Homo sapiens: one gene and its partner. The protein of the gene in region 2 interacts with the protein of the main gene of each other region in a pairwise test. Each region holds a gene or a part of one and is shown on either strand. Other genes may lie near its edges. The genes, in order: ARHGEF6 and SH3GL3.

Region 1 (3,824 bases), on a different chromosome or scaffold from region 2:
TTCTTTCCAGTCCAGATTATCGGGTCTCTAAGAAACAGCACAAAATTGACTCAACATTCCATGATCCTGTCCTCTCTTTCTCATCTGGAATTTAATTAATTTAATTTTCTTTCCTCTGTAAGGAAGGAAAATGGAGTAGCAGTCAACATTTGAGTTCAGTGATATGTTTGGCACTCTAGTAGGTGCTTAAATAGGTTATTTCATGAGAACAGCCTAAGACATAGACTCAGTCAAGGGAAGCAACTAACTAGTAATTGGCAAAGCCAAGATTTGAACCCAGATCTGAAGCCAAAGTCCATATTCTTCCAACCACAACACACAGTCCTCAAAACTGGAATTTTGGCATCATAGGTTTGTATGTTAACAAACAACACAGCATATCTTCCATCTCACTCAGCAAGTACAGTAAAATCTCATCAATTCAAATTCCAATGTCTAAATTTGTGATAACTCAGAAGGAGATAATGCTAAAAGTTTACCTTTGAAGAAGGTTACTGAGCAAATGTGAGAGCATGAGTGAGATGACATGGAGATGTTTAAGTACTTAGGGAGGTAAACTATTTGTTTCGACTTAGCCCACTGTTAGTAGGAGAATAACCATTGCTCATGGAAATAAGCCTTGCTTATCATTAAAATATTTTAGCAGGACTTCTGGTTAGAAATACTTTGCTAGCAGTTAGTTGGGGTATCTGAATACTGTCAAACAGAACTGCACACTCTAAGTAAACCTTTTCATTAATTTGGATGGGCCTCATAATGAGAAATCAGAATGAGTGAGGTTTAACTGTACTTCAAAATCTACAAATATAGGCTGCCCAAAAGACTAAGGGTGTGCTCGCTGCTTCTTGTAAGTCTCCAGCAGGCAGGAGTTGACGAAAGACTCAATAATCTCTGGACAGAACACATGGACTACTTACAGAATGAGCACTACATGATGACGATGAGGTTTTGGATAATGAACTGCAAGAGGCAGGTCCTCTGATCAGTCTGTTCAGCTGCTCCAACCATTCCTGGAAGTCCTGGTTGTTGTTACAATGGACCACAATTCTCTCCACTGTGTTACCTACATCCCCCAATTATGATCAGTTTGAAAACAAAAGGCAAGGAAAAACTTGAGCTTGTCCCATTCATAAATAGACTTCATACAACTAGGACTTGGGTGTGTATTTTCAGGGGTTTTCATACCTATGGGATAACCCTGCTGAAATTTCTATATCAGAAACAGATAACCTGTGATTACAAAGTAAATAAATATTCATGTCTGATTTAGAAAACTGTCCTTGATTTTTACTGCTTACAGAAGCTTAAAAGTAGTGTAAAACTTCACCATAAACAAACTTGCAATCCAAAAACATAAGCACATAGTCCATCTAGTTAAGTCTAAAGTGGGAATATTGTCCTGGTTCCCCTGGTATCAAAGTTGGAACAAGATCCAACTAAGACTATTTACAACCTTTTGGCAAACACCAAACCTTAAGCTCCTTCTTGGGAAAGAAGAGGGTAAGGCCATGATCCCAGTCTTAGCCACTGTGCCATATCAGCACCAACAGTCAGGCCACTACATATAAATGACACAGACCTGGCAAAAGGGATCATAAGCTAAAATGTCAGGGGGCATTACTGAAGCCTGGCATTATGCTCAATTTGTGAAGAAAATTTGATGGCTTTTCAGAACTTTTTAGAAATACAACCAAATCTTACTAACTCATGGGCTGATGATAAAATTGCTGATAAAAGTCCATATCTTTGGCTCCTCTGCCACCAGGGAACAAATGACAGAGGGGAAGAAAATTGCGTTTACATCAGTCCATTTCGTTATTCCTTAGCTCTCACAAGTAGCTCTCATGCAACAGAAAATTGAAACTAATGGCAAAGCCATGGCTTTTGAATGAGAGGAGACTTCTCTGTGCTATTGCTGTACCCTAATTATCCCAGGAAATGGAATATACTTTGCCATGCCCGCATAAAATTTGCTCGTGGCCTATGTAACAGGAAATAATGGCATTTATTTATTAAATTCCCCTTCATTCCAAAAAGAATTGGAAGTAGTTACATGAAAAAGAGAAAATTACCTACCAGTGATTTCAAATGTGCAGTCATTCCCTTCAATTTCATCTAATCTAGTCACCACCGTTCCTGCTATTGGTATTTTTCCCTATTAGAAAAAGAACATTCTCATTAATTCTGCAGTTATACAGGTCTCTGTTTATTTCACTTAGATTTTCTGACCCTCTCAGCAAGGCAAAACTATGGCTAGACGTATTTCTCCAGTCTGTCAATAGATAATATGTTTCCCTGCTCTAAATTTTAATCAGACTAAGAAAGCAAGGGGAAAATGTGGATTGTGTTTGGCTAACACACCCTAAACTATAAGATCAGGATTTACAAAGCAGTTTACTTTTCTAACACATTTTCATAAGAATCAGTAAAAAAAAGTGAAGGCTCAGATGTTATGAAAATTATTAATTGCCAGGCCAAGATGGAACAGGCAATAGTAACTTATAATACTCTATATGTTGGGAGCTGACTGAGGGACATTTAATTTCCTAAGGAGTTTAATAACATGCTTCTTAGAAGCCTGAATCATGTGCTGTGACTATAATAAGACAAACATAGGAGCAGGTCCCAGCTTTATGTTTTCTCAGCAATAATGACATGGGCCTGTACAATACTGCTGCTAATTTATCTAGTTTCCATTTATGCATGCAAAACCTAGTGCATAACTAAAGCGGTGGATATATTCAAGATAAACTCATTATACTAATACAAAGGTCTTTGATCTAAGGAACATCTGCTCTTACAAGCTCTTTAATTACAATGAAGGGTCAGAACATTCTGGTTCTCCTGGCTTGAGCTTTTAATGCCATAGTGGAGATATTGCATCTGGATGGAAACCTGTTTTCGTTAGGGGGTCTGCTATGTGTTTTATATGAAATTTACTAACCTGATAGATAAAGCCACTCATCCGAGGACTTGCAGATAACATTATCAGGACATTTGAAAATAACATAAGGTACCGCTCCTCTTTTTCCTGAGAGGGAATGAAAATAATACATGAAGAACAGAATTGGACACTTTATCTGTTGAGAATTTCTGGAATCACTGCCTTATAACATAGACCTTATATAAACAACTGAAACATTAACGGTAATTTTTTTTTTAAAAAAGATACCCAACTTGAAAACACAAAACTAGTTGAATTTTACTTTGACATGGACATAAACCCACAGTTTATCTCTCTTCTTCTTATACATAACAATTAAATACAAATAACCATGCTTGCTTTCCATGTATGAAAGCCTGAGAAGTCACCACAGTTTATGCAGCCAGTGAGATGTGCTAGACCTGGGCACAAAATAAGTCTCCAGGTTCACAAAATGAAAATATATTTTACTTTGAAAAAATGGCAAGATGAAGGGGTTTTCAGGTGATAAGAGATTTAGTATGCTCTAACATGTTTGTTAAAGTCGTATTCATAAAATTAGCTTTGGTCATTAAGAACAAGATAATTATTGGATTTATGTAAAACATAAAAGTAGATACACTTTCTTTTTTTTTTCTTGAGACGGAGTTTCGCTCTTTTTGCCCAGGTTGGAGTGCAATGGCACGATCTCGGCTCACCACAACCTCCACCTCCCGGGTTCAAGCGATTCTCCTGCCTCAGCCTCCCAAGTAGCTGGGATTACACACATGTGCCACCACTCCCGGCTAATTTTGTATTTTTAGTAGAGATGGGGTTTCTCCATGTTGGTCAGGGTGGTCTCAAACTCCCGACTTCAGGTGATCCACCCACCTCAGCCTCCCATACACTTTTTAATGGCACT
Region 2 (3,824 bases):
ACACCTATCAAAGTGGCTAAAATAAAAAACAGTGACAACAGCAAATGCTGGCAGGGATGTGGAGAAACTAGATCACTAATATATTGCTGGTGGGGATGTGAAATGGTAGCACAACTCTGAAAGATAGTTTGGGAATTTCTTTTCATTTAGAAAAATAAATCCTTATGATAAAGATCTAAATATTAAGAAAAGATTATTCAAAGTAGTAGAAAACTGTAGAAGAATAACTTCAGGGATAGGAAGACTTTTCACAACAGGGCACAAAATGTAATCATGACAGGGCACAAAATGTAAAGTCACAAGCAAAAGACAGACACATTTGACTACATCAAAATAAAAGCTTCTGTATACTCAAAGCAAAACTAAACAAAGCAAACAACAGCAAAAACAACAAAGGGACAAGGCACTCCAAAAACAAAGTTTAAAGATAAATGACAAACTAGGAAAAAAATTATTAATATCCTCATATGGAAAGAGCTCCTATAAAACAATAAGACAAAGCAAACTACTCCCAAAAAACACAAATAAATGACATAAACAGACAATTCAGACATAAGGAAATACAAATTAAAATATAGAAAAGAAAGTTCACCCTCACTAATAATCATGAAAATGCAAATTAAGACTGGATACCATTTTTTTCTCATGAGTGCTTGGCAGAAATGGAAGTCTACTGGCATGGGTGTGGGGAAGCAGGTGTTCATGCTTTAATAGTAATGTAGCCAGCACAGTGATAAAGGATACTCACTGTAGCAAATAACTGGAAAAAACCTTAACGTCCACCAATAGGGAAATGGTATAATAGAAAACTATGAAGCTGTTAAAACAGTGGGATAGATCTATATGCATGATATGGAAATAACTCGAAGAAACAGTGATACATTTTAAAAAGCAAACTGCCAAACAATATGCCTAGTATAATCTCGCATTTAAAAAACAGAAAAAAGGCTGGGTACAGTGGCTCATGCCTATAATCCCAGCACTTCAGAAGGCCGAGGCAGAAGGATTGCTTGAGCCCAGGAGTTGCAGGCCAGCCTGGGCAACAAAGTAAGACCTTGTCTCTACAAAAAATAAAAAAATTTGCCTGGCAGGGTCACATACACCTGTAGTTCCAGCTACATGGAAGGCTGAGGCAGGAGGATTGCTTGAGCCCAGGAGGTCAAGGCTGCACCGAGCCATGTTCATGCCATTGCACTACAGCCTGGGTGACAGAGCAAGACTTTGTCTCAAAAAAGAAAAAAAGAAAAAACAGAAAAAAATCCAAAACGCTGTTTATGTGTATATTTATGTACCTCAATAGATATGATAATAGTTATACCAAATTTTTTTAACAGTGGCTACATCTAGGAAGCGAACTGCGATGGTGTAGGTGATCACAAGAGACTATAGAATGACTTATACCATTAAATTTTTTTTTCTGTTTGATTATTTTACCAATTTTTTTCTGTTTGATTATTTTACTAAAAGACACATTTGCATCACTTGTTTAATAAAAAATAACGATGCAGCACTTAAGATAGTATCTAGCATATAGCAGTTGCTCAAAAATGCTAATTTCAACTTAAAAATAAATTAAGAAAATATTTTCAAAGAGTTAAAAAAATAAAGGATGATGTAGCCATAATGGTTCTATGGCCAAGGTTCTAAATGCTACATTATATAAGTGATAGAATTCTTCCCCAGGGAACAGAAAAAAGGGGCACGTTTAGGGGAAAAGGGAATTTACCAAACAACCAAAGAAAGATATCCAGGGTCTGTGTGTATTCACTGACCCAGAAACAAGCAGTAAATAAGTGTTTCTAGAAGTGCTTTACTAAAGGCACACTTAGCATATTAGAATGGTCAACTTACCTGTCGTCTTCACTACAGAGGTGGTGGAAACTCCATTGAGCTCACTAGAACTCCTTTTCACAGGCCTTGGCTTGTATTCTCGTCTGGGGACACTGGATGCAGCTGATATTCTGTAACACACATCGTAAGATGAGCCAGACATCTGATGTTGAAAGCTTTCCAAACACACATCCTCTCTGCCTTGTTGAGCACAGGAACTTAGGTTACAGCCAGTGGTCATGAAAGGGACGATTTTTACACACTGACTCTTGAGTAGCCCGAAGTGATGGAGGTGATATCACAAATGCAGTTTTTCAACTCCCTATTTGAGCTTGTGAGTGAAATTCATCTTGAAGAAGACTAATTGGGCCAGCCATGGTGGCTCATGCCTGTAATCCCAGCACTTTGGGAGGCCAAGGTGCTCACCTGAGGTCAGGAGTTCGAGATCAGCCTGGCCAACATGGTGAAACCCCATCTCTACGAAAAATACAAAAATTAGCCAGGCATGGTGGTGGGCGCCTGTAATCCCAGCTACTCGGGAGGCTTAGGCAGGAGAATCTCTTGAAACTGGAAGGTGGAGGCTGCAGTGAGCAGAGGTTACGGTGAGCCAAGATGGCGCCACTGCACTCCAGCCTGGGCAACAGAGCACGACTCCATCTCAAAACAAAACAAAACAAAACAAAAGACTAATTTTCTTCATCAAGTCTCTGAGGCATCCAGCAAGTGCCTGGGACGCGGTCGGCACCCAGTGATGGGAGCTGCCTTCTCCCTCACTCTACTCTTATAGATTATGATAGAATTATGAAAATACACTCCTGTCAGTAACAGGTAAACTATCTGCCTGCAGAAGTGGATGCTTCAGGGACTGAACACATCTTTGTCTTCCCTAGGTAACTACGTCATTGATTTAAGTAAAAATCCCTCCAAATTTATGCATTACCATAATCCTGTGTAAAACAATTTTCTGTTATCAAACCTAATTTAAAATATTTTAATAAACAGGGTTGCCATGCAGACTATATATAATATTACTAATTTTCAGAAAAGTATAGACTACATCTATGATTAAATTCACAAGGAATGCAGAAACCTTTCTTTGATTGTTCAGAAGATATTTTTGACTCTTTCAATACCTGTCAATATTATGAACACAGCCTGAAATTTGTCAATATTTTGACTCTTTCAATACTAGTCAATATTATGAACATATCCTGAAATTCGTACTGGTGAAGTGAAGGCACTACCTTTTTTTTTTTTTTTTTTTTTTACAGATATTTACATATTTTCCATACAGCATCTCACTTTTTTCCATAGCTCTGGATGTTTTCCATCCCTTTGTGAATGGGGAGTTAAACTCTCATCAAATCAGCAATGAAGCCAGGGTAGTTCTGTAGGGGTTGATGTCCCAGGTGGGAGAGCAACTTGGTTAGTTGCCCTAAACACGGGTCACAAAAAAAAGGGATTTAATGAAAAGAAAAAGGAGAAAAGCTGCCAGGTCCCTTTTCCCAGTTCTATCCTACTGGCCAAAGCCAGTACTTATTATCTCAGTCCCATCCCACATCCAACCATGAAAGCCAGTGAAAGAAAATTCAAAACAGAATGAGGCAGGGGAAGGGGGAGATGGAGAGATGGAGAGACAGACAGATGGATTTCAATAGATGTTACCTCCGCAGCCCTTGGCTTGTAAGAAACGTGGAGGTGCTTACCGCATCTGTAGCTTGCTCTGCAGCTCCTGCAGAATCTCTGTGGACTGTCTGTGATAGTCTAATGCTGCCTCTATGAACACAGCCAACTGGCTGACTTGTTCTACCTGCAGCAGAAGTGCAAAATTATTCCATGGAGGCCCGAGCCTGTGTAATGTCCAGAGAGAGAGGAGACCAGCAGCAAAGACCTAGCTTTGCAGGGAAGACCAGTGTCTGCCTTGGTCCATTTCATTTAATTTCATGTAGGAGCTCTGTATAATAATCATACAGGTCATGGTATGGAGCTATAAA

What was found.
Region 1: the proteins of SH3GL3 (region 2) and ARHGEF6 interact in a two-hybrid assay, tested with the Homo sapiens proteins (one large-scale study listed by BioGRID and IntAct).

The regions. Positions count from the first base shown.
Region 1 is NC_000023.11:136,679,814-136,683,637, forward strand, and holds part of ARHGEF6 (rho guanine nucleotide exchange factor 6), read right to left. Parts: intron 3,032-3,824; coding exon 2,945-3,031; intron 2,156-2,944; coding exon 2,077-2,155; intron 1,064-2,076; coding exon 918-1,063; intron 1-917. UniProt on the Homo sapiens protein: Acts as a RAC1 guanine nucleotide exchange factor (GEF).
Region 2 is NC_000015.10:83,586,799-83,590,622, reverse strand, and holds part of SH3GL3 (endophilin-A3), read right to left. Parts: exon of another isoform or gene 3,648-3,824; intron 3,641-3,647; coding exon 3,537-3,640; intron 3,266-3,536; exon of another isoform or gene 3,110-3,265; intron 1,962-3,109; coding exon 1,852-1,961; intron 1-1,851. UniProt on the Homo sapiens protein: Implicated in endocytosis. May recruit other proteins to membranes with high curvature.